Linked DNA regions of Homo sapiens: all the other regions are linked to region 4. Evidence: fine-mapped expression QTL. A gene starts in region 4. Each other region holds a variant in brackets. All regions are shown on one strand. Distances are between the middles of the regions.

The links. PIP is the estimated chance that this variant, and not a neighbour inherited with it, causes the effect. A credible set is the group of variants that fine-mapping cannot tell apart.
Region 1: its variant is the best candidate, but not a certain one, in a credible set for the expression of SESTD1 in regulatory T cells (Bossini-Castillo 2019, PIP 0.68).
Region 2: its variant is the best candidate, but not a certain one, in a credible set for the expression of SESTD1 in whole blood (INTERVAL, PIP 0.71).
Region 3: its variant is the best candidate, but not a certain one, in a credible set for the expression of SESTD1 in nasal epithelium (TOPMed, PIP 0.59).
Region 5: its variant is the best candidate, but not a certain one, in a credible set for the expression of SESTD1 in whole blood (INTERVAL, PIP 0.74).

Annotation. Positions count from the first base shown.
Region 1 is chr2:180,203,386-180,209,790 of GRCh38, forward strand. No RefSeq gene overlaps it. Among named protein-coding and RNA genes, the nearest start is that of EPCART, 81 kb to the left of the region's middle. The variant A/AT (reference allele first, on the strand shown) is at 3,401.
Region 2 is chr2:179,347,461-179,353,865 of GRCh38, forward strand. No RefSeq gene overlaps it. Among named protein-coding and RNA genes, the nearest start is that of SESTD1, 86 kb to the left of the region's middle. The variant C/T (reference allele first, on the strand shown) is at 3,123.
Region 3 is chr2:179,281,830-179,288,234 of GRCh38, forward strand. No RefSeq gene overlaps it. Among named protein-coding and RNA genes, the nearest start is that of SESTD1, 20 kb to the left of the region's middle. The variant A/G (reference allele first, on the strand shown) is at 3,248.
Region 4 is chr2:179,261,226-179,267,630 of GRCh38, forward strand. SESTD1 (SEC14 and spectrin domain containing 1) reads right to left here and starts at 3,607. Exons shown (of 18, transcript NM_178123.5): 1 at 3,274-3,607. RefSeq lists an enhancer at 2,339-2,408 and silencers at 2,737-2,900, 3,009-3,078, 3,089-3,708.
Region 5 is chr2:179,088,558-179,094,962 of GRCh38, forward strand. No RefSeq gene overlaps it. Among named protein-coding and RNA genes, the nearest start is that of CCDC141, 42 kb to the left of the region's middle. RefSeq lists an enhancer at 5,312-5,481. The variant G/A (reference allele first, on the strand shown) is at 2,984.

The sequences.
Region 1 (6,405 bases), 940 kb after region 4:
CTGATCATTTCTTCATAATTAATATTTTTATTTTATTTAAAATAAATTATCAACTTAAAGGGAGATTTTCCAGAGGGTGAGTTGGAAGGTTTTTTTTGCTCAAAATTTTAAGAGAGCAAAATTGCGTTCTTATATTATCACCAGATATTGAAAATACACAATATAATGAGAACTCATTACTGTTTTTAGCATTGCTTCAATGGTAGAGACTGATCTACCATTGAAGCTCCATGTATCTTGTAGCTGTCCGAGTGTTGCTCACATATATTCTGCTTTCCACCTCTCCAAGTGCCATTTTTGAAATCTCTGTGAGTTAGGAGTGTTGGAGGTTGTTGCCAGTTGGGTTCTCTAGAAGCAGAGAGTGAGACGGCATTTGGAGAAACAAGATGTTTATTAGGAGCCAGTATCTGTGAAGGAAAGGAGTGGAAGTGGGATTGGGAGAGGGAGAAGTTGTTTTGTGATACCTGGCTGGCTGTGTCTCAGCAAACTGGCTAGGAGCTCTGGAGCAAGTACTCTTCCTTAGAGGACTTATCACTGGGCCATCCTGGGAAGCATGTTGTCCTATGGAAGATTGTGACCGTGGGCAGACAGTGCTTTGCAGCTGAGGCAGTCCCTGATGAGGCTGACAGTTGGGGGTGGTCTGTTGATAGCACTCGCCACACTCGATCAACAAGTACTTCCAAGAAGAGAGATCTGAGTAATACATCTCTGGATCTACTACATGGATTTGGAAAATAAGCCAGGGCTCAAGAAACAAGCTAGAGGCATGAGTCTGCATAGTCAAGCCACCCACCCAGAGAGCCAGGAGATTAGAAAACAAGGGCTACAAGGCATTGCTTAAGAGACCAGAAAGCATGAGTCAGGGACACAGGCCCAGGCCCCAGAGCAGATCATGTCCAGAGCAAGGAAGGAGTCTGACTAACTGACATGAGCACCAAGAAACAGGAAAAAATTGGATACTGAGCCAAAGTGCAGGGAGAGAATTTTGATATCACACCAAAATTCTAGTTTCCATGTTTTTGCAGCTAATGGTGGGCAACTGGTTTGAGAGGGAAGGCGGCTATGATTTCCTAGATGAAGGGCAATTAAAATATGCTCTCCAAATTTCCAATTTGCTTGCTAACTCAAATTTGCTTGGAACTTTACAGCTTACCTTCATTCCAGAGATACAGAGGATCTTCCATGAATCTCTGGGGGAAAAACAAAATTCTATGAATTTGAATTCAGAAAATATGCAGTTTTTGATTCTCCAGTGACTGTGAATCACAATCACTTTGTTAACAATGTGGTTTTTCTTCTTTCCAGAATACTATCTTTGTTATCTTCAAAGAAATAATACATAAACCAATTTACCATTAACTAATGTATTCAACAAATTTAAGTGTCTCCTACACATATGCTAGGCACTGTTCTAGGGAGTTGAGTTAAATCGGTGAATAAAACAAAGATTCCTGTCTTTGTTAACCTCAACAGTAAGCACACAGTAAACAAAATAAATAATACGTAATAGTAAGTAAGTAATAATATGGACAAACAAAAAGTACGTCAGGATTAAGAGTTGGAAGCATAGTAAATGCAGGGGAAAAATTTCTGTTTTTATAGGATGCTCAAAGTGAGTCTCTTTGAGATGTTGACATTTCAGATGTTGATATTTGTGCAAAGTCTTGAAGGCAGTAGTGTTGATGAGCAAATAGTCCTGGCAGAGGGCTCTGCTAGTGAAAATTCCCTAACACTACAGCATGCACAGTGTATGCAAGGGACAGTGGAGACTCTTGCGGTTGGAGCACTGTGAGGGGGTGTGGGAATGATAAATATCAATACAGTAAGGGGTGAATGGGTGAGGAGATGGTTTAAAACTTAGGCTTCAACTCCGAGTTTTAACCCCAGCTCTATTGCAGCTTTTTGCAGAAGTTCATCATCTGATGTGCTTGCTATCCTGGCTACTCTTGAAAAATAAAACAGAGGGTAGGGGAAACAAGGCAGAAGGACATGACCAGTTAAGAGCCTGGTTCAGTAATCCAGCTAAACAAGAAATTGCCTTCATTTCTGCTGTCAATTGAAAAAATAAAAATAAAAAGCCCATGTTAACACTGTTGCTATTGCTCTCACTGGACTTAGATCTAACACTCAATGTCAGCAAAGGAACTGCACATTGAGAGAAATTGTCTATCATTTGGTAACCTTTATTCTTTCAGGACTAAAAGGTGACATGAAATACCAGAGAGCATGTCTCTCTCCTTTGTGCTGCTCTGCGGCATTTCAGGATCTGAGAAGACTATTCTAGTATTGAGGTTTACATACCATTACGCCCGGAATTCTGTCCAACTCTTCCCAGTGCAGCTTTTGTCCTCAGAAATAATTTTTGAAGCTGAAATACTCAGTAGGACACAGGCCTCTTTTTGTCTTTTTTTTCTTTCTATAAAACAACACATTCAAGAAGGCCAAAGAACAGTTACCACATCAGTAGAGAAGAAAGAAAGGGACGTGTCATGTTTAGAACAACGGTTGGGTGAAAGAATGTGCTAAGTGTGGGTAAGTTTGACAGAAACAAAGAAAAAGTTAAAGGAAATGGAGCCTCCTGGGAGGGAAGGCAGAACACAACTCAGTCAGATCAGGAATCAATGACATGAACACTGCTCTGTCTTGAAAAGTCAGAAGCCCTGCCCAGGGCACACTGCCCAAAGCCCAACAGCTTAACATCTTTTCACTCTTGGTAGGTGGATATTCTGAAACCAGGTTTTGATTCTCAGATTCCTTCTTTCTGTGGAACTAAACATTCTTAAAAGTAGTTTTTGATGACGCTTCTCTAGATACCAACATTGCTAAACTTTACCTTTTCTCACTTGCTTAAAAGAGTACCATATTTGATTTTCAAAGACCTTGTGAATAGCCCCTTAAAATGTTTCATTTTTTTAAGTGGGCAATTGAATACTGTGTGTGTGTGTGTGTGTGTGTGTGTGTGTGTGTGTGTGTGTGTGTGTTTTCCTCCTTAGGATAATATTATCTAAATTCTAGTAAGTTTATATTCTTTAAACACAAAATTGTTTTCATAGGTCAAAATCTCAGTATCTGATAGGCAAGTAGAAAAGTTTGAAGAAAAATCCCCTGTGAGCTTAGAGTTCTTTTGATCTGCTGTCAGATACCACCTGCAATGTTTTCCATTACTCCACCTGATTTTTAGAAACCCTGCATCTGCCACAGGACACTCAAATTGCCGTAGACATTGTAGACACCGATACCATAACAGCTACTTGAAATTAGAAGATAGAAATGTAATGAATAGGAGAATTTTACCTCCACTGTTGGTTGATAAACCCCATGTTGCCCTATAAGGCAAATTCCTTCTAAGGCCACAGTTATATAAAATGCATCAAACACAGTTTGCCTGATTGTTTTCTTC[A/AT]TTTTTTTTTTTTTTTGAAATTCAAAACAGTGAGTGGATACTCTCAATCATAGCCTATTGGGGAACTCCTGAAAACTCCGCAGGAGACACGAATGGTGCTGAAAAGTCAAGAGGAAAAGGCCTGCTGATGGTCTGGGAGGGTGTGATAGCATTGATGGTATGAGTCTATAGAGGGTAGGACTAATCAATCTCCCCACTCATTTGTCCCACCATTTCCCTTTTAGGCCAGGAATAGCTTCAATTATATTATTGGACACAAAGTCTGGTGGTAAATAAATCCTTGTGACGTAGCCATATTTGAGCACTTGTTGTGTGATCCAAACTTTAGTAAGCAAATTGAGATGGAAAAATGAACTATAAGACTTGACACTTTCCCTCAAGAAAGTTCCATTCACGTTTGGAGAAAAGACAAACCCTCATGAAGTAGATTTGAGCAATGAAACATAATATGTCATTATTTGACTGAATATGTGATAGACAATTTTCTGCAAGAAAATTGGAGCTTTCATAAATAACCTCCCAAAAAATGGGCCATCATGTGCAGAGCTTAACACAAAGACATTGCCTTAATTGCATCCTTACTGTTAAATACAAATTGCAGAAAATGAGATATTTATTCTTAAGATGTTTTCATGGAAACAGCAATTTATGATGGAATATCAGCAATAAGAGGTTTTTGGAAATTAACAATGCAGGGATGCAATGATAGAAACCATTTCTTATTCATTTGAATTAATAAAACAATGTAAGTTATAGATATGTTTTATTTGGACTACACAGTGTTAGATCTCATAGTATTTGGACATAAGAGGCAAATTAGTGAAGATATTTTAATTATTGGGAGACGTCATATAGAAAGCCAGATTTCCAGCTTCTCTTGAAACATCAGAAGAGGTAGTTCCACCAGTTCAGCATTCTTACAAGGCAACAATCACCCAGCATGTTTTAATAGTTCATATTTTTTACCTAGCCTCCTGTTGGCATTTGACTTTATGATTTCCTGATGAGGTCCAATCTCCAAATGCAGTCGTGCCTTTTGCAACATTCTTCCTGCTTGAACACATTACATGGAAACTCACTTGTCTAGGCAACCCATTCTAGTGTTGGACACGTCTTAGTATGCTACTGAAAAGCTCTTCATTTACAAAGTGTTTGTTCATTTCCTTTGCCTACTTTTTAATGGAATTTTTGCTTCTCAACTTGTTTAAGTTCCTTACACATTCCGGATATTATGCCTATCCAGATATTATACGTATACCAGATGCATAGTTTGCAAATATTTTCTCCCTTTCTGTAGGTTGTGTTTACTTTGTTGATAGTTTATTTTGCTGTGCAGAAGTTGTTTATTTTAATTAGGTCCCACTTGTCAAGTGTTGTTTTCGTTGCAATTGCTTTTGGCATCTTGGTCATGAAATCTTTGCCTGTTCCTATGTCCGGAATGGTATTCTCTAGGTTGTCTTCCAGGATTTTTATAGTTTTAGGTTTTACACTTAAGTATTTAATCCATCTTGAGTTGATTTTTGTATATGGTGTAAGGAAAGGGTCCAGTTTCAATCTTTTGCATATGGCTAGCCAGTTATCCCAGCATCACTTATTAAATAGGGAGTTCTTTCTCTAGTGCTTGTTTTTGTCTACTTTGTTAAAGATCTATTATTTCCATTGGTCTATGTGGCGGTTTCTGTATCAGTACAATGCTGTTTTGATTAGTGTAGCCCTGTACTGTAGTTTGAAATTAGATAATGTGATGCCTCCCGTTTTGTTCTTTTTGCTTAGGATTGTTGTGGTTATTTGGGCTCTTTTTTGATTCCATATGTATTTTAAAATAGTGTTTTCTGGTTTTGCAAAGAATGACATTAGCAGTTTGACAGGAATAGCATTGAATCTGTAAATTGCTTAGGGCAATATGGCCACTCTAATGATATTGATTCTTCCTATCATTCAGCGTGGAATGTTTTTCCATTTGTTTGTCCAGCACTCTTTTGAATAAAAATTGTGACAGCAGACTTCCTTATCTTATTTTCAGTCTCATGGAAAATGCATTCAGTCTTTCACATTAAGATGAATATTAGCTGTAGGTTTTTTGTAGATCTTTGTCAAGTTGAGAAAGTTTCCTTTATTCCTATTTTTCTAAGAGTTTTTATCATGAATGAGTGTTGAATTTTATCAAATGCTTTTTCTGCCTCATTTGATATGCTCATGTGATTTTTCTTCTTTAGCCTGTTAACATGGACCACATTCATTGAATTTTTGAAGACTGAATCACCCTGGCAACCATAGAACAAACCACACGTGGTCACAGTATAGGGGTCTTTCTATGTATTGCTTAATTTTATTTGCTAAAACGTTAAGGATTTTTATGTCTATAATTATGAGGCACATTGGTCTGTATTTTTTGTTTGTTTGTTTGTACTGTGTTTGTCTGGCTTTGGTACCAGGGTAATGCTAGCTTCATAAAGTGAGTTGGAAAGTTTCCTTCCCTTCTATTTCCTGGAAGAGATTTGTAGAATTGGTGTTATTTTTTCTTTAAACATTTGGCAGAAATTTGTGAAACCATGTGGGTCTGAAATTTTCTTTTTTGGGAGTTTTAAAATTACAAATGTAATTTTCTCAGTATTACAGGACTATTTAAATTATCTATTTCATACTAGGTAAGTCATAGTAGTTTGTGTTTTTCAAGAAATTGGTCGATTTTATCTAAGTTGTGGATATATAGAATTGTTCATTGTAACTCTTATTATCATTTTGATGTTTGCAGGTTCTGTAGTGACATCCCTGTTTCATTCCTATTATTAGTAATTTGTGTCTTGTCTCTATTTATTCTTGCTGGAGGCTTGAATATTTTCATATTATGTTTTGAGACTCTGGATATTATTTAAATCTGTTTTAGCTGTCTTTCTCTGACACTGCTCTGGCCTGGAAAGAGAGGAGAAGACACGGGCTTTGTTAGGGCCAAGTGGAGGAAGATGTCTAGTTTCCCTATTTGATCACTGTTGACACCCAATGTG
Region 2 (6,405 bases), 86 kb after region 4:
CTGCAGGGTTGGTTCCTTCTGGGGGTCCTAAGGGAAGGATCTGTGCCAGGCCTCTCTCTTTGGTTGTAGATGGCTACCTTCTCCCTTTGTCTCTTTACATCATCATCCTGCTATGTGTGTCTGTGTCCAAATTTCCCTTTTTATAAGGACACCATTTGTGGTAGATGAAGGTCTTCCCCTAATGACTTCATTTTAACTTGATTATCTCTGTAAAGACTCTATCTCCTACTGAGGTCACACTCATAGGACTTTGATATATTAATGAATTTGGGGGCAGTGGGGACGATACACTTCAACTCATAATGTAATCCAAAGTGAGTTTTAGTTTATTTTATGCTTTGGAGAAAAATCACTTTACCAAGAAAGACAAGATTCATACTAGTTCTAACTTTTTTATAGCCCACGATAGCATCAAAACGATGTGTGCCCAATATAAGCTCTCTATGACAGCCATAGTAGCTGGTGAAGGAGGTAGATGTGGGGAAAAAATCTTAAATTAGATAATAAAGAAGACTTCAGGGCCTCTCTCTCAAATTCTCCCATTCAAATGGTCTGTCTCTTTATCAAGCAGTTCTTTTTTTGAGACAGAGTCTTAATCTGTCGCCCAGGCTGGAGTGCAGTGGTGCGATCTCGGCTCACTGCAACCTCTGCCTCCTGGGTTCAAGTGATTCTCCTGCCTCAGCCCCCTGAATAGCTGGGATTACAAGTGCCCGCCACTGCGCCTGGCTAATTTTTGTATTTTTGGTAGAGATGGGGTTCCATCATGTTGGCCAGGCTAGCCTCGAACTCCTGACCTCAAGTGATCTGGCCTCCTCGGCCTCCCAAATTGCCCGGATTATAGGCATGAGCCACCATGCCCAGCCTCAAGCAATTCTTTCATGAGTGAGGTGTTCATTATATTCTTGAGCACTACATGAACATTTTAAAAGACATGCATGGTAGCATCTCAGAGGGTAAATCTGAAGGGACCTCACTGCCTTGATAAAAATCAGAGAACAAAATTGAACTTCTAATGTGACCGCAAAATGGCTTCATCAGATAGGAGAAGGGGAAATCATGAAGAAAATGCTTTCTTTTCTACTCTTCAAAACTAAAATAATAAACCAATGTGTACCTGTAGACTTAATTGGCTGAAGAAAATAAGTGTTCTAGAAATAGATCATACAAATAACTCAAATACCTCAGGAATATATAAGACTGGGGTTTCAAGGCAATGGAAACCCAACTGATCAGCAATAACTAAGAGCAAAAACCCTTGGGAGGTGGATGGGTCATTCTTCCCAAATACCAAGTAGAGAATCATGATTCATGTCACCAAAATGATCCAGGGTTTTGCAGAATTTGAAGAGGCACTAAATGCGAAAGCGGCAAGCAAAGAACAATTGACAGAATTATAATTCAGATCTCAGTTCTTGGCATCTTTGAAGAGTGTTCTAAATTTTGCAAGTGATACCAGGCAGGGACACAAGCTATAGTCTTCCTGCTTTAATCCGCAGTCTACAGGCTCAAAACTAATCCTGTGAAGTCAATGAGTATGAAAGATCCAAAGGCTCCTCCTGTGATTAGATTTCCGACTTCCCTTGGAGCTGCCATTCATCACAGCTCCCTGGCCTTGTGCATGACTTCAACATGAAACATTTCTCAGGGAATCGTTTATGCTGGAACTCTGGCCAGCATCCCTCCAGAAGCAGAGCTGAGAACTGAAGAATCTTTAGAAAGGAGAGGAAACTGAAAGTAGGACAGCCCTTGAGAGCACATTTATCCCAATGGCTTTTGGTGTGTTGTCAGATGCAAAAATTTCCAGTCTGAAGAGTTTTAATATTCCTATCCTTTCTAGCTGAAATATGGTTTCCTTCTTTTCTAAGCATCAAAGGATGATGTCACCATCCTTCCAAGTCATTTAGGAACAAGGCAATAAAGTAGATATTTGGTAATGATTTCACCCAGACTTTGATGAAAAGCAGCAAATCATGGTTCTTCCTGAGAAATATTTGCTTTTGTATTCTATGTCCAGATTGCCATTTATTCTGGTGTGTGCAAACACAGAGGCTGTTTGATAATCTTGTTGCCTCCAAGACAACCTTATTCTCAGTTTAGGAATAAGCCAAATGCATAAATATCCTTTTCTTGCCTTTGAAATGATGGTATTTATAAATACTTCATGATTTATTTCAGACGCACCCAATTTAGTGGTTGGGCAATTTAAATCTCCTCACCAGAAGATTCAAATGCAAAGATATCTACCAGAATTTTAGTTTTATAGTTGAGATATAAATACACACAGAAAAGTCTATAAATACAGGGGCATGAGTAACTCCATATCATAAATATTTTATTCTCAAGTTCATATTTTTCTTTCCATCACATAGACCTGTGATATGTGGCTGAGATGTGCATGAGTGACAAATCTTTCCAGCAGATACATGATATGAGTAGTGAAAATTGTCTTAGTGAGTTAGTTGTTGTTTGTAAGGTGGCAAGGACACACTCTCTCTTCCTGAAAAATTAGTCCACTGTATCCTTAATATGTTTAAGAATAAGAATGAGTTAACTATTGCCTTCTGCTTAAAAGTAAAAATTAGGATGTCTTTTCTCAGTAATTTATATCATGCTATAAATAGTATTTGCTAATAATATTAACAAGGAACTGACCTACTTCCTCTTTTTAACCAAGAGATAAAAGGTAACTGACTTTCCAATTACTGAGTACTGCTTTTGCTGGAAACTTGTCTCATTTCATAAATATATTGAAATAATTTAAATTCTAAGCCTAGAAAAAAAAACTGGTAGAATTAGAATTCTCTGGCTTTCTTATCAGGACGAGCAGAAAAGTATGCCTAATCTGGCTCCTTGGCATTGGAGGTCCAGAGGAATTATTTGGATGTTTTCAATTAAAACCTGACAAAAGATAAATTGCTGTGTGAATGACAGGAAAAATCAAATGCTGATTTTATTAGAAGGAACTCATTAGGGAAACACATTAAAACCAGGAACTGATGGGACCTTATGGTTCTGGGAGACAGAAAGTGGGTCTATTGCCACTTAGAAAATGTTTTAAAACAATATAAAATGAGTTCCACAAAGTACAGACAATGATAATGCAATTAGATGTTTCAGTTCTT[C/T]GGATGGCCAGGGACTAGCCATACTGACCAACCATAGCATACCAGGCATGATGCCTGGGCTGCGTGTACTGGACTAGGAGTGCTCCGAGGGCAGGGGCTTCGTCTGTCTCACCTTTGATGTTCCAGTGGAAAATGATATATGCTTATTATCAAAATTCAAAAATCATTGAAAATACTCAATAAAGAAAATGAAAAGAATTCAGTCCACTCCCTTATAGATAATTTATTGTTGGCTCTTTGGTAAATCAGCATTTGATTTACTAAACCAAATTACTTTTGGGGGTTAATCTCTTTCTATCATTTATCCATCTATATTAGATATCAAGGTGGAAATATTTTTTGTTATCTCAACCACTGGTCTGAAAATTTATTATAGATTGAGGCCAGTTTTTGTTTGGAAAGCCAATACATGATTGAGTTAAAAGAAAAACCTTAAAGATGTTGAAAAGATATTGGTTGATGCACAAACTTCAGAGAACAGGGTAGAATTGCTCTGCATGAGAAAAGGAGAGGAGTTCTTTTTTTTTTTTTTTCCTTCCAAAAAAGGGCAGAGAGAAGAGTAGAGAACAAATAATCCAGGGAGAAGTAAATGAGAGGGAGGGAAGGGGAGCCAGAGGAGGCTGTGAGACTAGGAACTGTATGGAGGAGGAGTAAAGAGAAGAATTCATGTTGCCGGGGTGCCCAGGAAACATTTGGAGACCAGCAATTTCTTATAGGGGCATCATGGCATTAGCAGTGCAGCAGGCAGTGCCATGTTTCCCCTAATGGCTTAGTAAAGACTTTTATATCTACAGAATAGTTGGTGTGAGTGAGCTTTTCCTGTGGGAACAGGGGTGAGTGTCAAGACCATATTGAAGCGGTGTGGAAAAAAAGCCCATATGTGTGGAAGCAGGCACCCATGGGCTGAGAGACAGAGGTGGCCAGGAGACACAGCCCCTTACTTCTTTGCTGCATGATTCCCCCTAAATTCACAGAACACTTGGAAACGTTTTAGACTCTACAGGACCTGGAATTGGCAGTGTTGAACCACTTCTACCTTTAAGAGTCAGAAAGACCCTAGAAGATATCTTGTTTATAATTACGCTAATCCAAACCATGATGGTGAGACTGCTCCCCCAGTCTTATTGATTAAGATGCAATCTGCTCTAAAGAATGTGTCTCAGATATCTCTAATGGATTTTGGTACCTAATGTGTGCTAGGGAACACATCCCTGGCATTCCTCTCTTCTGGTCCTGACTTCATGTTAGTATCCCTCTTGTTCCAGTGATGACTCTCACCATCTCTACTCTGGAGGACATGGCTGCTATCTGGCAGTGACCGCTGCCCACAAATATGGATGTGGGCTCTACCATAATTTCCCCTTACAGAAGAACAAAGACTAATGGAAGGAGAGTCCAACACGGAAGATACATTGCTTCTGCAGTTCAAGTCCATTTTGCTGTAGGTCACCTATGGGCCTAGCCACCTTCCTGACTTGTCATCAGCTTTTCTCTGTGTTGTCAGGCCCAGGTCAGGACACCTGGCTCCTCACAGTCACCGAGTCTCAAACCCAGAGAAAAAAGAAAAAATTTCTCCTCACCTCAGACTAATTCCTACTCACTAAGTCCTCATTTTTTGTCCCAGGATGAATATCTTCCTAGTATAATGGACAGTGGAGAACTTCTATCTGTTATAGGGAAACCCAACTACTATATAAAAGAGTGAGACTGGCTCTGTGATCCCAAGAAGAAAATAACAAAGATGATGCTTTTTCTATCATGTGGGTTAGACGGCCTTACCCTTGGGCAACTTGATGTAATATTGTTTTTACAAAAGAAATATGTAAAGTAGGTCGAATACAATTTTCCATTTCCTCTTTCACTTGACAATACATTTTGTATATCATTCCATATATGTCAACTTTATGCTTTTTAATAGCTGCATGCTGTTCCATAGTTGCATGGTTATACTATAGTTTGTTGATGAACATTTTGGTTGTTTAAACAAATACTGCCACAAGTATTTATTTCAAAATACTTTAATAGATGATGTAAATCTAGTAAGTATCCCAACATTTACCATACAACACTTTTTAAGTTGTGGTTAAATATATATATAACATAAAATTTATGATTTTAACAATTTTAAAGTATAGAGTTTTGAGGTATTACGTACATTCACATTGTGTGCAACAATCACTACCATTCATCTTCAGGACTTTTTCATCTTCCCCAGCTGAAACTTTGTACCCTTAAAGACTAACTCTGCATTCCCACTTCATTGCAGCCCCTTGCAACCACTCTTCTATTTTCTGTCTCAAAGAACTCTACTCCTCTAGGTACCTCATATAAGTGGAATAATACAGTGTTTTTCCTTTTGTGACTGCCTTATTTCACTTAGCATATGATTTCTTCAAGGTCCACTGATGTTGTAAGCATGTATCATCATTTCCTTCCTTTTTAAGGCTGATAATATTTCACTATATGTATATACCACATTTTGTTTATTTATTGGTTGATGGAACTTGGGTTGCTTTTGACTATTGTGAATGATGCTGCTATGAATGTAGGTATACAAATATCTGTTTCAATTCATGCTTTCAAGTTTTTGGGGTTTATATTCAGAAGTGAAATTATTGGATCATATGGTGATTCTGTTTAATTTTTTAAGGAACTGCTACATTGTTACCCATAGTAGCATTTGAGTCATTTTTAATAAAATAAAAGCCATATATATTTTTTTATTTATTTATATGTATCTGTATTATATATATTTATATATCTGTATTTTATATATATAAATAGCTTATATATATATAAATAGCCATATATAAATGGCCCTATCCTACAGAAATGCTTTACATAAAGGTACAGATATCTGTAGGATAGGGCTGGGAACAGTGGCTCACACTTGTAATCCCAGCACTTTGGGAAGTCGAGGGGGAAGGATAGTTTGAGGCCAGGTGTTCAAGACTAGCCTGGTCAACATAATGAGACCCGGTCTGTACAAAAAATAAAAAGTTAGCTAGGTATGATGGTGTGTGCCTATAGTTCTAGCTACTCAGGAGGCTGAAGCAGGAGGACTGCTTAAGCCCAGAAGTTCAAGGTTACAGTGAGCTATGATAGCACCACTGTACTCCAGCCTAGGCAACACAGTGAGACCCTTTCTCTAAAAATAAATAAAATGAAACAAGATACTATATATTACTGTTTGTTTTTTGCTGTTCCATTGGAATACATCTCTTTTACTGAGCTGAGAACATGCCATTTTATTTATTGTGGCTTGGTATCACCTTTAAACATA
Region 3 (6,405 bases), 21 kb after region 4:
TAAAATGGCTTATATCCAAAGATAGGCAATAACAAATGCTGGTGAGGATGTGGAGAAAAGGAAACCCTCGTATACTGTTGGTGGGAATGTAAATTCGTACAACCACTATGGAAAACAGTTTGGAGATTCCTCAAAAAACTAAAAATAGAGCTACCATACTATCTAGCAATCCCACTGCTATATATACCCATAAGAAAAGGACTCAGTATATTGAAGAGATATCTGCACTCCCATGTTTGTTGAGGCACTGTCCACAATAGCCAAGATTTGGAAGCAACCGAAGTGTCCCATCAACAGATGAATAGATAAAGAAAATGTAGTATTTATACACAATGGAGTACTATTCAGCCATATAAAGAATGAGATTCAGTCATTTGCAGCAACATGGATGGAACTGGAGGTCATTATGTTAAGTGAAATAAGCCAAGTACAGAAAGACAGACATTGCATGTCCTCATTTATTTGTGGGATCCAAAAATCAAAATAGTTGAATCCATAGAGATAGAGAGTAGAAGGATGGTTACGAGAGTTTGGGAAGGGTAGTGGGGTGGTTGGGGGGAGGTGGGGATTGTTAATGGATACAAAAAAATAGAATGAATAAATAAGACCTAGTATTTGATAACACAACAGGGTGAGCACAGTCAATAATAGTTTTACATTTTAAAATAACTAGCAGAGCATAATTGCATGGTTTATAACACAAAGAATAAATACTTGAGGGGATAGATACACCATTTTTCATTATGTGATTATTATGCATTGCATGCTTGATCAAAACATCTCATGAACCCCATAAATATATACACCTATATGTACCCACAAAAATTAAAAATAAAAAAATTAAAAATATCATCACAGCAAGGACTATATGGTTTGAATATTTGTGTTCCTCCCAAAACTCATGTTGAAAGTGAATCTCCTATGCAACATTATTAAGAGGAGGGACTTTTAGGAAGCGATCAGCCCATGAGGGCTCTGCCTTCATGAATGGATTAGTGTCCTTATAAAAGGGCTCAAGGGAGGGAATTTGGTCTGTTTTGTGCTTCCATACTTTGACCTTGTGAGGGCATAAGGGCATAGTTGGTGTCACCTATGAGAAATAAGCCTTCATCAGGCACTGAACCCGTCAGTGCCTTGATCTCGGACTTCCCAGTCTCCAGGACCATGAGAAATAAATTTCTGTTACTTATAAATTACTCCATGTCAGGTATTCTATTATGGCAGAACAAACAGACTGAGACAAGGAGTAAGATGAGGTGCAAAAGTGACCCTTGCACTTGGAGATTATTGGTGACCTTAGGAAAAGCAGTTTTGATGGAATGATGGGAGAGGAAGTTTGATTGAAAGGGGTTCACAAGAAAATGGGAGAAAGGTCTTATTTTGCTACAAAACGATAATGCCATGCACTTCTAGGCTTACACGATTTGGGGGAATGAAAGCAAAGCAGTGGGCTATAAGTCACCAGGTCAGACTGACCCAGAGAAAGTGTCCTGGGGCAAGTTGGAGAACTGATGAAGAGCAGCTCTCACAAAGCCAGAAACCTGGAGAGGAGTTACGGTGGTTCCAGATTACTAGTGGGGCATGTGGCTCCACACAGAAGATGAGTTTTGGAGAAACACATCTTCAGATTAGGACTCCAGGATTCCCACAGATTAAAATCAATTAAATGGGAGTTCATAATCAACGGTTATAAAAAATATAAACAAGCAAATTCATGAAAGTATCAGAAATAACCAACATCACATTTAGTTCAATCGGAGTTTCACATACTGGAATGATCAGACAAAGAATATGAAACAAATTATATGAAATGTTTAATGTTTTAAAAGATAGAAACACAAAAATTAAGCAAGCAATAAGAGGCTCTTCTATAAGACCAGGCAAATTTGAAGACAAACCAAATAAAGCTCTTAGAAGTTAAAAAAATAGAATTGCTGAGGTAAAAAGTTTCAATTGATTGGTTAAAGCACACATTAGGCAGAGCTAAATCAAAATATTGGCAAATTCGAGGACCCATCTGAAGAAATGATACAAAGTGCAGCCCAGAACACAAGCAGATAAAATATATGAAATGTTAAGAAATATGCAAACAGTCTTATCAAATTAATAGGAAGAGAGAAAGAGAAAGCCCATTTGCTTCAAAGGCCTAGCAGCTCACCAAGCAGGTGGGCAGAAGATAAAATCCATAGGCTCATGCACACTAATACTGAACCAGAAAATCTGAGGTTGATCCGACTAATATTTTTTCCTTTGCGGGCTGTGGAGGAGGGGGTGGGAAAATGCAGAGCCAGCAGGAGTTTCTCATCCTAGTTATTAATAATAAATGAAATGCATAAATTGTGGAAGCACTTGCAATGTGCATGCTTTAAGATCTTCCTGTAAAATTAATCTTGCCATGTGACATCAGAATTCTCCTGTGAGTAATTTCTTTTTCTGTAGCTACAAAATATTTATGTTTCTGTTATTTATAAAAACCAAAATTCAAATATTCTTTCAAGCCATTATCTTCTTTTTCCTTCCATTCAGTGACAACTTCCTTGTGCGTGAAAAATATCCAGAATTGAAATGATTACTTGTTCACCATTCATTCACTACTTGCAGCCTCCCCACTAAATCAACTGACATAGTTCTTTCAAAGTTAACAATGACTACTTAATTATCATATTCAGTGATTTTTTCCCTCTCTTCCCTCTTTATAGTACTTGATACTGTTAACCACTCATTCCCTTTTTCTTTTAATCAACAAATAGTTATTAGGTTTTCACCAGTCTCTAAACTAGGATCTGGGGATGAAAAGGACATTCTCTGATGTCAAATGTTGTTCAGTCTATTTATCAAAGAAGATGTGCACAAACTATGTGATATAAAGCAGTAAAGGCAAAAAGTAGAACCACAAATGAGGGAGAAATTGCCTCTACCCAGGGAAGTCATGAATGGCTTTACACTTGAGTCTTCTAGAAAGACAGTGTGTGTTGACCAGGTGGATGGAAACAGGCTATGGCATCATTAGTGGCAGAGGAAGTACATGACCAAAGGTGCAGAGACATAAAGCATCCAGGTCTGCTGAGGGCACTGCAAATAGCTCAGTATGTCTAGAACATGGGAACCAAGCTGGGCTTCACAGCTAGAATGAAAGGCAATGCAAAATAACAGAAGACTTTGAACTTATCAAAGGAATTTGGACTTAAACCTATAGGCACTACACAAGGTGCTAACAAAGTTCTCCTTCTCCTTTTTGCCCTTCTTA[A/G]TACACTAGTATTTTGCAAATAACACACTTACTTGCAAGTAGATGGAAGCTGGATTGGAAGGCTATAAGACTGAAGGTAGAAGACCATGTGGGAAACTTGAACTTCTGAGTGAGAAAGGATAAGCATCTGAACTAAGAAGGAGGCAGACAGATGTGAGAGGTGGTGGACTGAGTGAATGACAGTCCCATTGGGAGAGAGGGTATACAAGGCAAAGGAGCAGGGTTTGGGAGGATGTTCTCAGGGATGAGGAGTGTGGGCTAACTGGGCATCCCAAAAGGGGACTAATCCAATTGGTGACCATGTATTTCTTTCTGCCCTTTTGTTGCTATAATATTTATCACTTTCTTCATTATAAAATACATACCTTTCATTGCAGATGATTTCAGCCATTCTGAAAAGCATAAGGAAAAGAAAAACCACCAGTGATCTCATAATACAGACATTTTGGAATATTTGAAAAGATCACACCACTGCACTTCAACCTGGGACAAAGAGCAAGACTCTGACTATAAAAACAAAAACCAAAAAAAGGTGTGCACTATGCACATATGTACATTTTTAGAAAATTGTTTCTTACCCTATGTAGAATGTTATAGCCTGCTTTTAACATTTAATCTGCACCATGAGCACCGTTCTGCATAATAAGATAATCTTTGGATATATCATTTTAATGACTATATAGTGTTTTATCCTATGAATGAACCACCTTTTTTTAACCTATTGATTAACATTGCAATTGACTTATGTTTTGCTCTCAGATATAATGCTATAATGAACATTTTGCATATAATATTAGACAATTTTGATTATTTCCTCGGTACAAATTCCTGGAAATAAAAAATACAGTGTCAAATTTAAGAAAAAACATGCCAGGCACGGTGGCTCACACCTGTGATCCCAGCACTTTGGGAGGCTGAGACGGGTGGATCACTTAAGGCCAGGAGTTCGAGACCAGCCTGGTCAACACAGTAAATAAAACCCCATCTCTACTAAAAATACAAAAATTAGCTAGGCGTGGTGGCACACACCTGTAATCTCAGCTACTGCGAAGTCTGAGGCACGAGAATTGCTTGAACCCAGCCAGCAATGGTTGCAGTGAGCCAAGATGGCACCACTGCACTTAAGCCTGGGTGACAGAGTGAGACTCTGTCTCAAAAAAAAAAAAAAGTTTAAGAAAGAACAATTATAAGGTCTCTTGATACATGCTAACAAACTAATTTCCAAATATATGTCCCAATTCATGTTCCCATTGGCATTGAGAACTTCATTACAATTTTTTTTTACTAAATATATAAGCAAAGATTTCTTCTTTTTAAATTTGCATTTCCTGAATGATAAAATAATATGTTTATTGGCAATTGTATTTTCTTCGTGAATTGTCCCTTCATTATTCATAGATAATTTTTCTATTAGAATGTTGGGTTTTTTCCCTTGATTTATATTAGTTGTTTTTATACTAAGTATATTGACTTTTTTAAAATTCTGCCATACTTTTTTGCAGATATTGATATACAAAGTTTTATAATTATTTTACAGATAATGGTATTTATCTTTTCTTTTGGAACCCTTGATTTTCTTCTCAAAACTCTTCTCTTTCAATGTCCATGACACTGTTTTATCCTGTTTTTCACTTCTCAGTCTATTTCCCTGTTAATGGTGTCTAGCTGACATTTTTTCCTTCTTCACATAGAGACATTTGTCAGTCCTTGGTCCTTTTCTGCCAATATCCTTATACTCAGAGACCTAATCTATCTCAATGCCTCAGTGTTTTTAAATACTGAGTCTCTTAATCTAATTTTTTGAGTACTATATGTACATAATATTAAATTCAAAACCACAAAATAATATACAGTGAAAAATAAGTCTCTTTTTTCTCCCTGACCCTGGGCCATCCAGTTTCTCTCCTAGGAGCTAACCACCACTATTAGAAATAATCTTTTGTGGAACCATCTAAGAATAAGTTATGCATTTACAACTATTCACAATAGCAAAGACATGGAATCAACCTAAATGCCCAGCAATGGTAGACTGGATAAAGAAAATATAATACATACACACCGTGGAATACTATGTAGCCATAAAAAAGAACAAGATCCTCTCCTTTGCAGGAACATGGATGAAGCTGGAGCCCTTTATCCTTAGCAAACTAATGCAGGGACAGAAAACCAAATACCACATGTTTTCACTTAGAAGTGGGAGCTAAATGATGAGAACACATGGGCACATACAGGGGAACAACAGACACTGGGGCCTAGTGGAGGGTGGAGGGTGGGAGTAAGGAGAGGATCAGGATAATCAGGATAAATAACTAATTGCTATTAGACTTAATACCTTGGTGATGAAATAATCTGTACAAGAAACCCCCATGACAAAAGTTTACCTATATAACAAACCTGAGCATGAACCCCTGAACTTAAAAAAATAAATTTTTACAATACAAATTCTGAGCTACATTGAAATCTACCAACAAAAATGGAAAACGTTTATTGTTACCTTGTTAATCTTTAACTTAAATGAAAATACTGATATTGGCCGGGTGCAGTGGCTCATGCCTGTAATCCCAGCCCTTCGGGAAGCTGAGGCAGGTGAATCATTTGAGGTCAGGAGTTCGAGACCATTCTGGCCAACATGATGAAACTCTGTCTCTACTAAAAATATAAAAATTAGCCAGGTAAGGTTGTGCAAGCCTGTAATCCCAACTACTCAGGAAGCTGAGGCAGGAGGATCACTTGAACCTGGGAGGCGGGGGTTGCAGTGAGCCAAGATCGCACCACTGAACTCCAGCCTGGATAACAGAGAGAGACTCTTGTCTCAGAAAAAAAAAAAAAAAAAATTTTAAGGTATTTAGTCAATCCCTTCTTTCAAAAGCTCTTAAGTTTAAAATGTGTTAAATTGTCAAGTTTGAAAATACGAATTGACCTACAAAGTAAAATGAAAATATTTGGATCCTCAATTAATGGCATCTGAAAAAGATAGGATATTATTTAACAGAATTAGAAGTATTTTAAAAGCAGGATACATCTAGAAATAAATTATTGTAATGGCCATAGATAACATCCCCTGATTTTTATGGCAATCACATAAACAATTTGTTTTTCTCTCTTTCAATTCTGTGTCTACATATTTTACCCCTCCTGGCAATTTTAAAATAAAGACC
Region 4 (6,405 bases):
TGTGGCAGTGTTGCCACAACACCTTATGGTTTGTTATTGTTTGGTTTGATTTTTTTTATTTTTCCCTCACTTTGTCACTAATCAACCAGACATTCACAAACACAATTTAATTTCTGTATGCCTCATTGAGTGCAGGAAGTAGAGTCAGAAGACCTGAGTTTACACTCAGACCTTGCCTCTTATTAACTGTAAGGTTAAAAAAACAAGCAAATGATTAAACAACTTTGCACTTTAGTTTCCTGGCAGTAAAATAGGAATAAACCTACCTTACAGCATCATTTAAAACATTAAATGAGAAAATTATATACAAATGGCCAATAAAAACATGATAAGATGAAATACAAATGAAAATCACAATGCGATATCACTTCACAGCCACTAGGATGGCTATCATCAAAAAGACAAACATTAACAAGTGTTGGCAAGGATGTGGAGAAAATGGAACCCTCATTGCTACATTGCTATAACCCTACATTGCTAGAAGGAATGTAACCCTTCTAGCAATGTAGAAGGGTTACCCTAGAAAATGGAACCCTACATTGCTAGAAGGAATGTAAAACAGTGCAGCAGCTATGGAAAACAGTCAAGCAGTTCCTCAGAAAGTAAACAGAATTACCATATAACCCAGCAATTACACATCTAGGTATACATCCAAGAAAATTGAAAGCATATATACCATACAAAAACTTGTAAATGAGTATCCACAACATTATTTATTATGGCCAAAAAGTAGAAACAACCCAAATGCCCATCAGTTGAAGATTGGATAAACAAAATGTGGCATAGCCATATAACAAAATAATATTCTGCCATAAAAGGAATGAAATATTGATACATGGTATAATATGAATAAACCCTGAAAGCATTATGTTAAGTGAAAGACACTAAAGGCCACATATTATGATTCTATTCACATGCAATGTCCAAAATAGGCAAATCCATAGAGACATAAAGTAAATTAGTGGTTGTCAAATATGGGGAAGGGGGAATAGTAACAAAAGCTACCAGGTACAAGGTTCTTTTTAGGGTAATAACGTTCTTGGATTAGTGCCGACATTTGCATAATTTTGTGAATATATTAAAACTACTGAATTGCATACTTTAAAAAAGTGAATTCTATGGCATATGAATTATATCTCAAAGAAAACTATTATAAAAATTTAAGTCTCTGCTTTTTTTTCTTTTGAGACAAAGTCTGGCTGTCACCCAGGATGGAATGCAGTGGTCCAATCATGGCTCACTTCTCTGCTTGCTACTTTTTATTAGTAAATATTCTACTTTCCTCAAGAGGTTGCTCATGTTGCTTGTAACAGCTTTAAAAGATCTTTGAAGTTAGCTACTATACAGATGAATGGTATTTTTAGTAAAGTAAAACTACTATAACAGAGAAACTTTCTAAAAATCGGATTAGTTTGGTACAATTTCATTTTTTCAAAAGAAATGTCATTAATACCAAGTTCATTTTTAGAGAGTGGAAAAGCTTCAACAAGTCCTTATAAAAATACATTTTTTAAAAAGGTCAAAATGCAATACTTTGTTTTCTTAATTATTGGACATTTCATTTTCAGATATATCATTAGTAGATTACCTGTTTAAAATGTCATTAAATGCCTAGCAATGAATTAAAACCCAAGTAGATGCAACTTTGTGACCTCTACTTACAACTTTCTACATTCTGCATTCTGTTGTCAGATTCCTAGTCCATCACTAGCTCCTAATCTCTTACATCAATTATTCCATTCAATTCTTATTCACAGGGGCTAAAATGTTTGGTAAATGCAATCAATTCATTTTTCTAATGCTGGGGAAAAACTAGAGTGGGCCCAATTTTTAAGGTTAAATTTAGTCCAGAATGTTTGAATAAATATTCAACAAAACGATTTCCTGGAATTTGGAACATAAAAACAGCCTATAGAGTTGTGAAATGCTTTCTAGGTCCTTGGGGAATTTTTTCACGTATTTAGTCATGGGGCAAAGTATTACGTATAAAAGCTTCCTGGTCCTAGAACAAAGACGTATTTTACTGCTCAAAGCTAAAGGAATTAGTATTGTTAAACTAAAATAGCATACCAATGAAACCAGCTAGGTATTGGCATAACTTAACCAAGGTATGTAACCAAAGATAAATTGTACCTTATTATGCATTCTTCCTTGGGAGGAAAAATTCTCACATTAATAAGATTTAGCCAGCCAAAACAGAAAAAGTATATAGATATATGTGTGTCTGTGTATGTAGGTATGTATAAGGATTAGGATTTTGAGTGGCAATTTAAATTTGACGGTTTGCCAAGCTATGCTGGGATACATAGTGGGCATGCTTGACACAAGCAAAACGTGAAGTAAGAGACGACCTGTCAAACAGCTGCTATCTAGTTACTCCCTCGGCAGCACTCCCAACTTCTCCCGCGATGTCTGTGTGTAAGAGAAAGATGTCAAAGCACCAAGAAAACCACGGGGGCTGTCAGAGCAACAGCCAAGTCCAAACCGTGCATCCCAGGGTGAAATCCCACCCGTACCCTCAAGAGCTGGTCAGACTGCGGCTCTTTTCTAATATGAGTCTACCTAAAATAGAAAAATAAACACAACCACAGACCCTGGCCAACCCTCTCTCTCCTCCCCTTTGTGACTCTCCCAAACGCTGGAGGGATGTTAACCTCTGGCAGGCCCGTGGAAGCCAAGCCCCGCGACCTGAGGAGGCGTCCAGGAGCCTCGGCGCAGCCCTGGGGCCTCGAGCCCGTGTCCTCCACCCACCCGACAGGGCCGGTCACCGGTCACACAAAGGAGCCAGTCGCGGGCGCTGGACGCGGGACTCGCCCGAGAGCAGGGAGCCACATCTGGTTCCTGCACGCTGGCAAAAGAGACCCGCTGGAAAATAAGGACTAACGCCCAAACCTGTTGCACAATTCGGGTCCCTTTCACCCAGAAATGAACAAGGGCGCTCAGGAACGGAAAAGCGCGCGGCCCGGTCTCTGCGGGCCGCGGCCGCACCCGGCAGACGGCGCGGAGGCAAAGGCGGCCCGCAGGGCTCCCACCTCCGGCGCTTTGTCTGTGGCGGCAAGGCGGTGGGGGCGGTCGGGGCGTTGGGAGCAGAGGCGGTGGCGGGGCGGGGGCGCCCCTCCTTCACTGCGTAGCCCCTCCGCCCCGCGGCCCGCGCAGGGGAAGAAAGCCGGGCCCGCTACCGCCGCCGCCGCCGACTGCACCGGCCCAAGCCGGCCACCCGGCCGCGGGGCCTGCGCGCTTCTCCCGCCCGGGCCGAGCGGCGGCCACACTCACCTGGCTGGCGCTGACGCTAGCGGCCGGCGGCTCCGGGGCGTTGGGGAAGACAGGGGAACGCTAGCGAGGTGCGGGCGGAGGCGGAGGGCGCGGCGGGAGGAAGGCGGGCTGGGGGCGGAGCGGGCCCGGGCGGCGGCGGCAGCAGCGGCGACGGCTGCGGCTCCAGTCACTCGCGGCAAATCGCGTCCCGGCCCCTCCGTGCGTCAGGCGGGGAGCGGGGGTGCGGGTGGCCCGGCGACCTCTCGGCACCCGCGGCCCGAGCCGCGTCCGCGCGACCCCGCGCGCGCCCGGGTGACGGCGGTACAGCAACCCGCCCGGCGCGGGAAGGAGGAAGGAGGCGGGGCGGGGCGGGGCGTCCAACCGGGCCTGGGGCTGAGGGCTGGGCGCGAGTGGGACTCTGGCGCTCCGGACGGACCCTGCCGTCCCCACCCCTAGCCGAGGCCCAGGCTCCCCAGGCGGGAGGCAGTCTTGGAGAGTGGAAGGGTACCTAGATCTGGAGTCAGAAGTCTGGGCTTAAGAGAGGGTCCGTTACTTGACACCCTGGCAGGTCATTTATTTCCTCTGGCCTCATGCTGGAGTTCGAAGGTTCGAGTACAAAGTCTCCAAGAGCTGCTCCCAAGTACTCACTGCCAAGCGGTGGTGTGGCTGAAGGATGAAGGCAGATGAAAGGGAAAGGGTTGCGGTGAGGAAGGGCTGGATTCAGGGCATTTGTTTTGCTTTGAGGATCTTTCCACTGGACAGTCCAAAATTAATCCACAATGGGGCTCCCTGATAATGGCTACTTCCCCATTTTTACCAACCTAGTTATTTTTCTCCAAGTATACTGACTTAAGAGTCCTTGTTTTCATTTTATTGCGCAAATCATTTGTATGTCATTTCCTGAATTCAGTTCAAAAGAGTCATCAGCAAATTCACACCAGATCAGAGCAGCTGTGTGGTCCCAATTTCAAGACTTCCATATTATTCACTCAGCCACTCACTTCAGTATCACCTAATTCCGTTGATAAAATCTTCCTATTCCAACAACTAAGCAACCAAATTTCTCTCCACTAAAGTTTTCTGACTTAAAATCCCGTGGATTAATTCTTCCTCTTAATTCTGTGAATATCAGTCTGTCTCCATGACTTCCACCTCTTTGCCACTCTAGGTCAAGCCTTTAACTTCACTGCTGCTTCAGTTCCATATAACTGCCAGAGAGAATGCTCCAAAAAGACAGAGCTAAGCATGAAACGTCCCTCTTTAAAATCATTCAAAGTCTCTCCACCTGGTTGAATCAGGTTCAAACTCATTACCATGGTTTACAAAGCCATTTAAAATCTGATCTATTGACCTCCTTGGCTCCAGCTTCAACTCCTAATATATCTACGTATCACACAAATTCAACAGACTTTGTCTTTGTGCCCTTGTAGTTTTCCCCCACCTGAAATCCATCCCTCATTTAACCAGTTGAACTCCTATTGTCCTTCAAGATAATGAAGATAATGCATCCCTTCCTCCTTGGAATCTTCCCTGACATCATCTCCTTTCACCACATCTGTATCCTTACCCCACACATTTACAATGAATTAAATACTCTTTTTCTCTCTGCTTTCATAAAATCGTCTATCTACAGTATTCCCTATGATAATCTTTAATACTTGCTTTTTTCCTGTTGCTTTGCTTGGTGGCCTTTTCTTCCTAGACTGTGTGTTCCTTAAAAGGACAGGGATTTTGTCTAGTTCATTTTTTTTGCTCCCCAGAACATAGCACAGTGCTCAGCACAAAAAAGGTTCTCTTTAACTGTTTGCTGAAGCGTTGAAATAATTTTCCATCCCAACAAATAGATGTTGAGCATCTACTCAACGAAAAGAAAATACAGGGAAGTCCACAGTCCCAGCCTTTTTTAGCCTTCCGTGGTATTCTGTTTTTCCCTTCTCTACTATGTGGCATTCTCTGCTTATCATTTTAAACTCTCTCCAACTACCATTCACATTCTTTGCTTATCCTAGTAAAACAAGAGCATGCCAAGCAATCCATTATAATAATTCACAAAATATCCCTGCCCTTCCTCTTTACATACTTCTGGTTCCACATTGTATTACCTAGGTGTTAGATAAGAGGTAACTGCTATAATGGAAAAAACATTAAACTATAAATTCAGAGAATGAAATTTGGATGCTACGTTTTCCAATAACTACTGAATGAACTTAGCTCAATCACTTATAGTCATGAGGCTTTACTTCTGGAGTTTCTTTGGCTCTATGATTAGCATTTGTTTTTAATATTTTATTATAAAAGTAAATATATATATGCTAGATCCTTGCAATGTAGCTATCCAGCATATGTTTGAACTCCAAGTGATAGGAAACCATTCATGACCTCACAACAGTTTTCATTTTTAAACAGTCCTGCTAGTTTCTATGTTCAACTAAAATCTGTCTCTGTATACATTTGGTAAGTAGCTACAGTATTGGTAGAAACACCACTGGACTTAGACTCCAAAGAAGTTGGTCAAATCCTGGGCTTATAACTTCCTAATTGTGTGACCTTAGAAAAGCACAAAACTGCTCCAAGTATGAGTTTGCTCCATTCTAAAAGGAGAAAATGATAATAATAGCACCTTAAATCATTATTGTAAATATGAATGCAATGCGTATGAATGTGTCCAGTGAGTCTGAACCTAGTACTAACATTGTTTAATACAGAACAGCATGGTTCCCCCCCATATGCAGCCTTGTAAACATTTGAAGTCAGCAGTCACAATGTGTGCCTTCTCCACCCACTTTTTATTCACATCTCATTCGTCTCCATACGCATTTATCTAAACATTCTCCAGTGTCTCTTAAAATGTGGCACCTAGAACTGAATACAATATTCCAAGTATAAAGGAAGGAGTAGAGGAGTACAATTTTCTGCATCCTAATGAAGATATTTCAAAATTCAGTTTGATATCACATTATTTTTCTACCACCCCATACCGTTCATAAATATCATGTTATTGCCAACTAAAAACAAGCAAAAATTACCCCCAAATCTTTTTTAAGTCTTTAACATATATACAGCTATAAAACCATATCTTCTCCAACCTGTATTTTGCAATTTGTTTTTGGAAACTGTGCAGATCTTTGCATTTATTCCTCTTAAATATCACTT
Region 5 (6,405 bases), 170 kb before region 4:
TTTGTATAAGGTGTAAGGAGGGGATCCAGTTTCAGCTTTCTACATATGTCTAGCCAGTTTTCCCAGCACCATTTATTAAATAGTGAATCCTTTCCCCATTGCTTGTTTTTGTCATGTTTGTCAAAGATCAGATAGTTGTAGATATGCGGCGTTATTTCTGAGGGCTCTGTTCTGTTCCATTGATCTATATCTCTGTTTTGGTACCAGTACCATGCTGTTTTGGTTACTGTAGCCTTGTAGTATAGTTTGAAGTCAGGTAGCGTGATGCCTCCAGCTTTGTTCTTTTGGCTTAGGATTGACTTGGTGATGCGGGCTCTTTTTTGGTTCCATATGAACTTTAAAGTAGTTTTTTCCAATTCTGTGAAGAAAGTCATTGGTAGCTTAATGGGGATGGCATTGAATCTATAAATTACCTTGGGCAGTATGGCCATTTTCACGATATTGATTCGCCCTACCCATGAGCATGGAATATTCTACCATTTGTTTGTATCCTCTTTTATTTCATTGAGCAGTGGTTTGTAGTTCTTCTTGAAGAGGTCCTTCGCATCCTTTGTAAGTTGGATTCCTAGGTATTTTATTCTCTTTGAAGCAATTGTGAATGGTAATTCACTCATGATTTGGTTCTCTGTTTCTCTGTTATTGGTGTATAAGAATGCTCGTGATTTTTGTACATTGATTTTGTATCCTGAGACTTTGCTGAAGTTGCTTATCAACTTAAGCAGATTTTGGGCTAAGACAATGGGGTTTTCTAGATATACAATCATGTCATCTGCAAACAGGGACAATTTGACTTCCTCTTTTCCTAATTGAATACCCTTTATTTCCTTCTCCTGCCTGATTGCCCTGGCCAGAACTTCCAACACTATGTTGAATAGGAGTGGTGAGTGAGGGCATCCCTGTCTTGTGCCAGTTTTCAAAGGGAATGCTTCCAGTTTTTGCCCATTCAGTATGATATTGGCTGTGGGTTTGTCATAGATAGCTCTTATTATTTTGAGATACGTTCCATCAATACCTAATTTATTGAGAGTTTTTAGCATGAAGAGTTGTTGAATTTTGTCAAAGGCCTTTTCTACATCTATTGAGATAATCATGTGGTTTTTGTTTTTGGTTCTGTTTATATGCTGGATTACGTTTATTGATTTGCGAATGTTGAACCAGCCTTGAATCCCAGGGATGAAGCCCACTTGATCATGGGGGATAAGCTTGTTGATGTGCTGCTGGATTCGGTTTGTCAGTATTTTATTGAGGATTTTTGCATCAATGTTCATCAAGGATATTGGTCTAAAATTCTCTTTTTTGGTTGTGTCTCTGCCAGCCTTTGGTATCAGGATGATGCTGGCCTCATAAAATGAGTTAAGGAGGATTCCCTCTTTTTCTATTGATCGGAATAGTTTCAGAAGGAATGGTACCAGCTCCTCTTTGTACCTCTGGTAGAATTTGGCTGTGAATCCATCTGGTCCTGGACTTTTTTTGGTTGGTAAGCTATTGATCATTGCCTCAATTTCAGAGCCTGTTATTGGCCTATTCAGAGATCCAACTTCTTCCTGGTTTAGTCTTGGGAGGATGTATGTGTCGAGGAATTTATCCATTTCTTCTAGACTTTCTAGTTTATTTGCGTAGAGGTGTTTATAGTATTCTCTGATGGTAGTTTGTATTTCTGTGGGATTGGTGGTGATATCCTCTTTATCGTTTCTTATTGTGTCTATTTGATTCTTCTCTCTTTTTTTCTTTATTAGTCTTGCTAGCAGTCTATCAATTTTGTTGATCTTTTCAAAAAACTAGCTCCTGGAATCTAAAAAACTAGATTCATTAATCTTTTGAAGGGTTTTTTGTGTTTCTATTTCCTTCAGTTCTGGTCTGATCTTAGTTATTTCTTGCCTTCGCCTAGCTTTTGAATGTGTTTGCTCTTGCTTTTCTAGCTCTTTTAATTTGATGTTAGGGTGTCAATTTTAGATCTTTCCTGCTTTCTTTTGTGGGCATTTAGTGCTATAAATTTCCCTCTACACACTGCTTTGAATGTGTCCCGGAGATTCTGGTATGTTGTGTCTTTGTTCTCATTGGTTTCAAAGAACATCTTTATTTCTACCTTCATTTCCTTGTTTACCCAGTAGTCACTCAGGAGCAGGTTGTTCAGTTTCCATGTAGTTGAGTGGTTTTGAGTGAGTTTCTTAATCCTGAGTTCTAGTTTGATTGCACTGTGGTCTGAGAGACAGTTTGTTATAATTTCTGTTCTTTTACATTTTCTGAGGAGTGCTTTACTTCCAACTATGTGGTCAATTTTGGAGTAGGTGTGGTGTGGTGCTGAAAAGAATGTATATTCTGTTGATTTGGGGTGGAGAGTTCTGTAGATGTCTATTAGGTCTGCTTGGTGCAGAGCTGAGTTCAATTCCTGGGTATCCTTGTTAACTTTCTGTCTTGTTGATCTGTCTAATGTTGACAGTGGGGTGTTAAAGTCTCCCATTATTATTGTGTGGGAGTCTAAGTCTCTTTGTAGGCCACTCAGGACTTGCTTTATGAATCTGGGTGCTCCTGTATTGGGTGCATATATATTTAGGATAGTTAGTTCTTCTTGTGGAATTGATCCCTTTACCATTATGTAATGGCCTTCTTTGTCTCTTTTGATCTTTGTTGGTTTAAAGTCTGTTTTATCAGAGACTAGGATTGCAACCCCTGCCTTTTTTTGTTTTCCATTTGCTTGGTAGATCTTCCTCCATCCCTTCATTTTGAGCTTATGTGTGTCTCTGCATGTGAGATGGGGTTCCTGAATACAGCACACTGATGGGTCTTGACTCTATCCAATTTGCCAGTCTGTGTCTTTTAATTGGAGCATTTAGCCCATTTACATTTAAAGTTAATATTGTTATGTGTGAATTTGATCCTGTCATTATGATGTTAGCTGGTTATTTTGCTTGATAGTTGATGCAGTTTCTTCCTAGCCTTGATGGTCTTTACAATTTGGCATGTTTTTGCAGTGGCTGGTACT[G/A]GTTGTTCCTTTCCATGTTTAGTGCTTCCTTCAGGAGCTCTTTTAGGGCAGGCCTGGTGGTGACAAAATCTCTCAGCATTTGCTTGTCTGTAAAGTATATTATTTCTCCTTCACTTAGGAAGCTTAGTTTGGCTTGACATGAAATTCTGGGTTGAAAATTCTTTTCTTTAAGAATGTTGAATATTTGTCCCCACTCTCTTCTGGCTGGTAGAGTTTCTGCAGAGAGATCAGCTGTTAGTCTGGATGGGCTTCCCTTTGTGGGTAACCCGGCCTTTCTCTCTGGCTGCCCTTAACATTTTTTCCTTCATTTCAACTTTGGTGAATCTGACAATTATATGTCTTGGAGTTGCTCTTCTTGAGGAGTATCTTTGTGACGTTCTCTGTATTTCCTGAATGTGAATCTTGGCCTGCCTTGCTAGATTGGGGAAGTTCTCCTGGATAATATCCTGCAGAGTGTTTTCCAACTTGGTTCCATTCTCCCCATCACTTTCAGGTACACCAATCAGACGTAGATTTGGTCTTTTCACATAGTCCCATATTTCTTGGAGGCTTTGTTCGTTTCTTTTTATTCTTTTTTCTCTAAACTTCCCTTCTCGCTTCATTTCATTCATTTCATCTTCCCTCACTGATACCCTTTCTTCCAGTAGATCGCATTGGCTACTGAGGCTTCTGCATTCATCACATAGCTTTTGTGCCTTGGTTTTCAGCTCCATCAGGTCTTTTAAGGACTTCTCTGCATTAATTATTCTAGTTATCCATTCGTCTAATTTTTTTTCAAAGCTTTTAACTTCTTTGCCATTGGTTCGAATTTCCTCCTGTAGCTCGGAGTAGTTTGATCGTCTGAAGCCTTCTTCTCTCAACTCGTCAAAGTCATTCTCCATGCAGCTTTGTTCCATTGCTGGTGAGGAGCTGCGTTCCTTTGGAGGAGGAGAGGCACTCTGATTTTTAGAGTTTCCAGTTTTTCTGCTCTTTTTTTTCCCCATCTTTGTGGTTTTATCTACCTTTGGTCTTTGATGATGGTGATGTACAGATGGGTTTTGGGTGTGGATGTCCTTTCTGCTTGTTAGTTTTCCTTCTAAAAGAGAGGACCCTCAGCTGCAGGTCTGTTGGAGTTTGCTAGAGGTCCACTCCAGACCCTGTTTGCCTGGAATATCAGCAGCAGTGTCTGCAGAACAGTGGATATTGATGAACCGCAGATGCTGCTGCCTGACCGTTCCTCTGGAAGTTTTGTCTCAGAGGATTACCCGGCCGGGTGAGGTGTCAGTCTGCCCCCCTACTGGGGGATGCCTCCCAGTCAGGCTACTTGGGGGTCAGGGACCCACTTGAGGAGACAGTCTGCCCATTCTCAGATCTCCAGCTGCGTGCTGGGAGAACCACTACTCTCTTCAAAGCTGTCAGAGAGGGATATTTAAGTCTGTAGAGGTTACTGCTGCTTTTGTTTGTCTGTGCCCTGCCCCCAGAGGTGGAGCCTACAGAGGCAGGCATGCCTCCTTGAGCTGTGGTGGGCTCCACCCAGTTGGAGTTTCCCTAGCTGCTTTGTTTACCTAATCAAACAGCTAACTCAGAAATGGTGGGCACCCCTCCCCCAGCCTCGCTGCCACCTGGCAGTTTGATCTGGGACTGCTGTGTTAGCGATGAGTGAGACTCCATGGGTGTAGGACCCTCTGAGCCATGTGCGGGATATAATATCCTGGTGTGCCATTTTTTAAGCCAGTTGGATAAATGCAGTATTAGGGTGGGAGTGAGCCGATTTTCCAGGTGCCATCTGTCACCAATTTCTTTGACTAGGAAAGGGAATTCCCTGACCCCTTGCACTTCCTGGGTGAGGTGATGCCTCGCCCTGCTTTGGCTCGCACATGGTGCGCTGCACCCACTGTCCTGCACCTACTGTCTGGCACTCCCCAGTGAGATGAACCTGGTACCGCAGTTGGAAATGCAGAAATCACCCGTCTTCTGCATCACTCTCGCTGGGAGCTGTAGACTGGAGCTGTTCATATTTGGCCATCTTGGCTCCTCCCCCCCAATTTCTTTCTTAATTTCTTCTTTGACCCAATGGTCATTCAGGAGCATATTGTTTAATCTGCATGTATTTGTATAGTTTCCAAAATCCCTCTTGTGATTGTTTTATAGTTTTATTCCATTGTGGTCAGAGAAGATGCTTGATATTATTTTAATTTTGAGGGGATATTTTAAGGCTTTTTAAGTGACCTAATATATGGTCTATGTTTGAGAATGATCCATATGCTGTGGAAAAGGATATGCACTCTATAGTCATTAGATGAAATGTTCTATTAATATCTATTAGATCCATTTGGTCTATAGTGCATTTTAAGTCTGATGTTTCTTTGTTGATTTTCTATTTGGAATATCTGTCCAATGCTGAAAGTGGGGTGTTGAAGTCTCCAGCTATTATTGTATTGGAGTCTCTTTCTTTAGCTCTAACAATATTTGCATTATATATCTGAGTGTTCCAGGGTTGGGTCCATGTATATTTTAAATTGTTATATCCTCTTGCTGAACTGACCCCTTTATCATTATATGGTGACCTTGTCTTTTCTTATAGTTTTTGTTTTGAAATCTATTTTGTCTGATATAATGATAGCTACTCCTGTTCTTTTTTGGTTTCCATTGGCATGGAATATCTTTTTCTATCCCTTTATCTGCAGTTTATGTATGTCTTTATAGTTGAAATGTGTTTCTTGTAGAAAACAGATCAATAGGTCATGTTTTGTGTTTCTTTGTATCCAAAACTCTGTCTTTTATTGGAGAGTTTAGTACATTTACATTCAATGTTATTGTTGATAAATAATGATATAATTCTACTGTTTTGTTTTCTGTTTGCTTTGTGGTCTTGTTTTCCTTCTTTCCTTCCTGTCTTCCTTTTAGTGAAGGTAATTTTCTCTGGTCATATGATTTAGTTTCTTGCTTCTTATTTTTTCTGTATACGTTGTATGATTTTTGGTTTGAGATTAGCTGATAAAAACACTGTTTGCATAAACAAACATGCAAGCAATCAAAAAGTAAACTAATATTGTATACCTTAATATTCCCCTTGCTTTTTAATTTTTTGTTGTTACTCTTTATGTCTTACTGTACTGTCTACATCATAAAAATTTGTTGTTGTTACTATTTTTCATTGGTTCATTATTTAGTCTTTCTACTTAATAACAGTTTACACACCATAGTTATCATGTTATAATATTCTTTGCTTTTCTTTGTACTTCCTATTACCACTGAGTTTTATACCTTCAGATTATTTCTTCTTGCTCCTTATTGTCCTTTTCTTTCTGACTATAAAACTCCCTTTAGCATTTCTTGTAGGACAGCTCTAGTGTTAATAAAAATCTCTCTCCTTTTTTTTTTTTGGTCTGGGAAAGTCTTTATTTCTCCTTCATGTTTGAAAGATAATTTCACCTGATGTA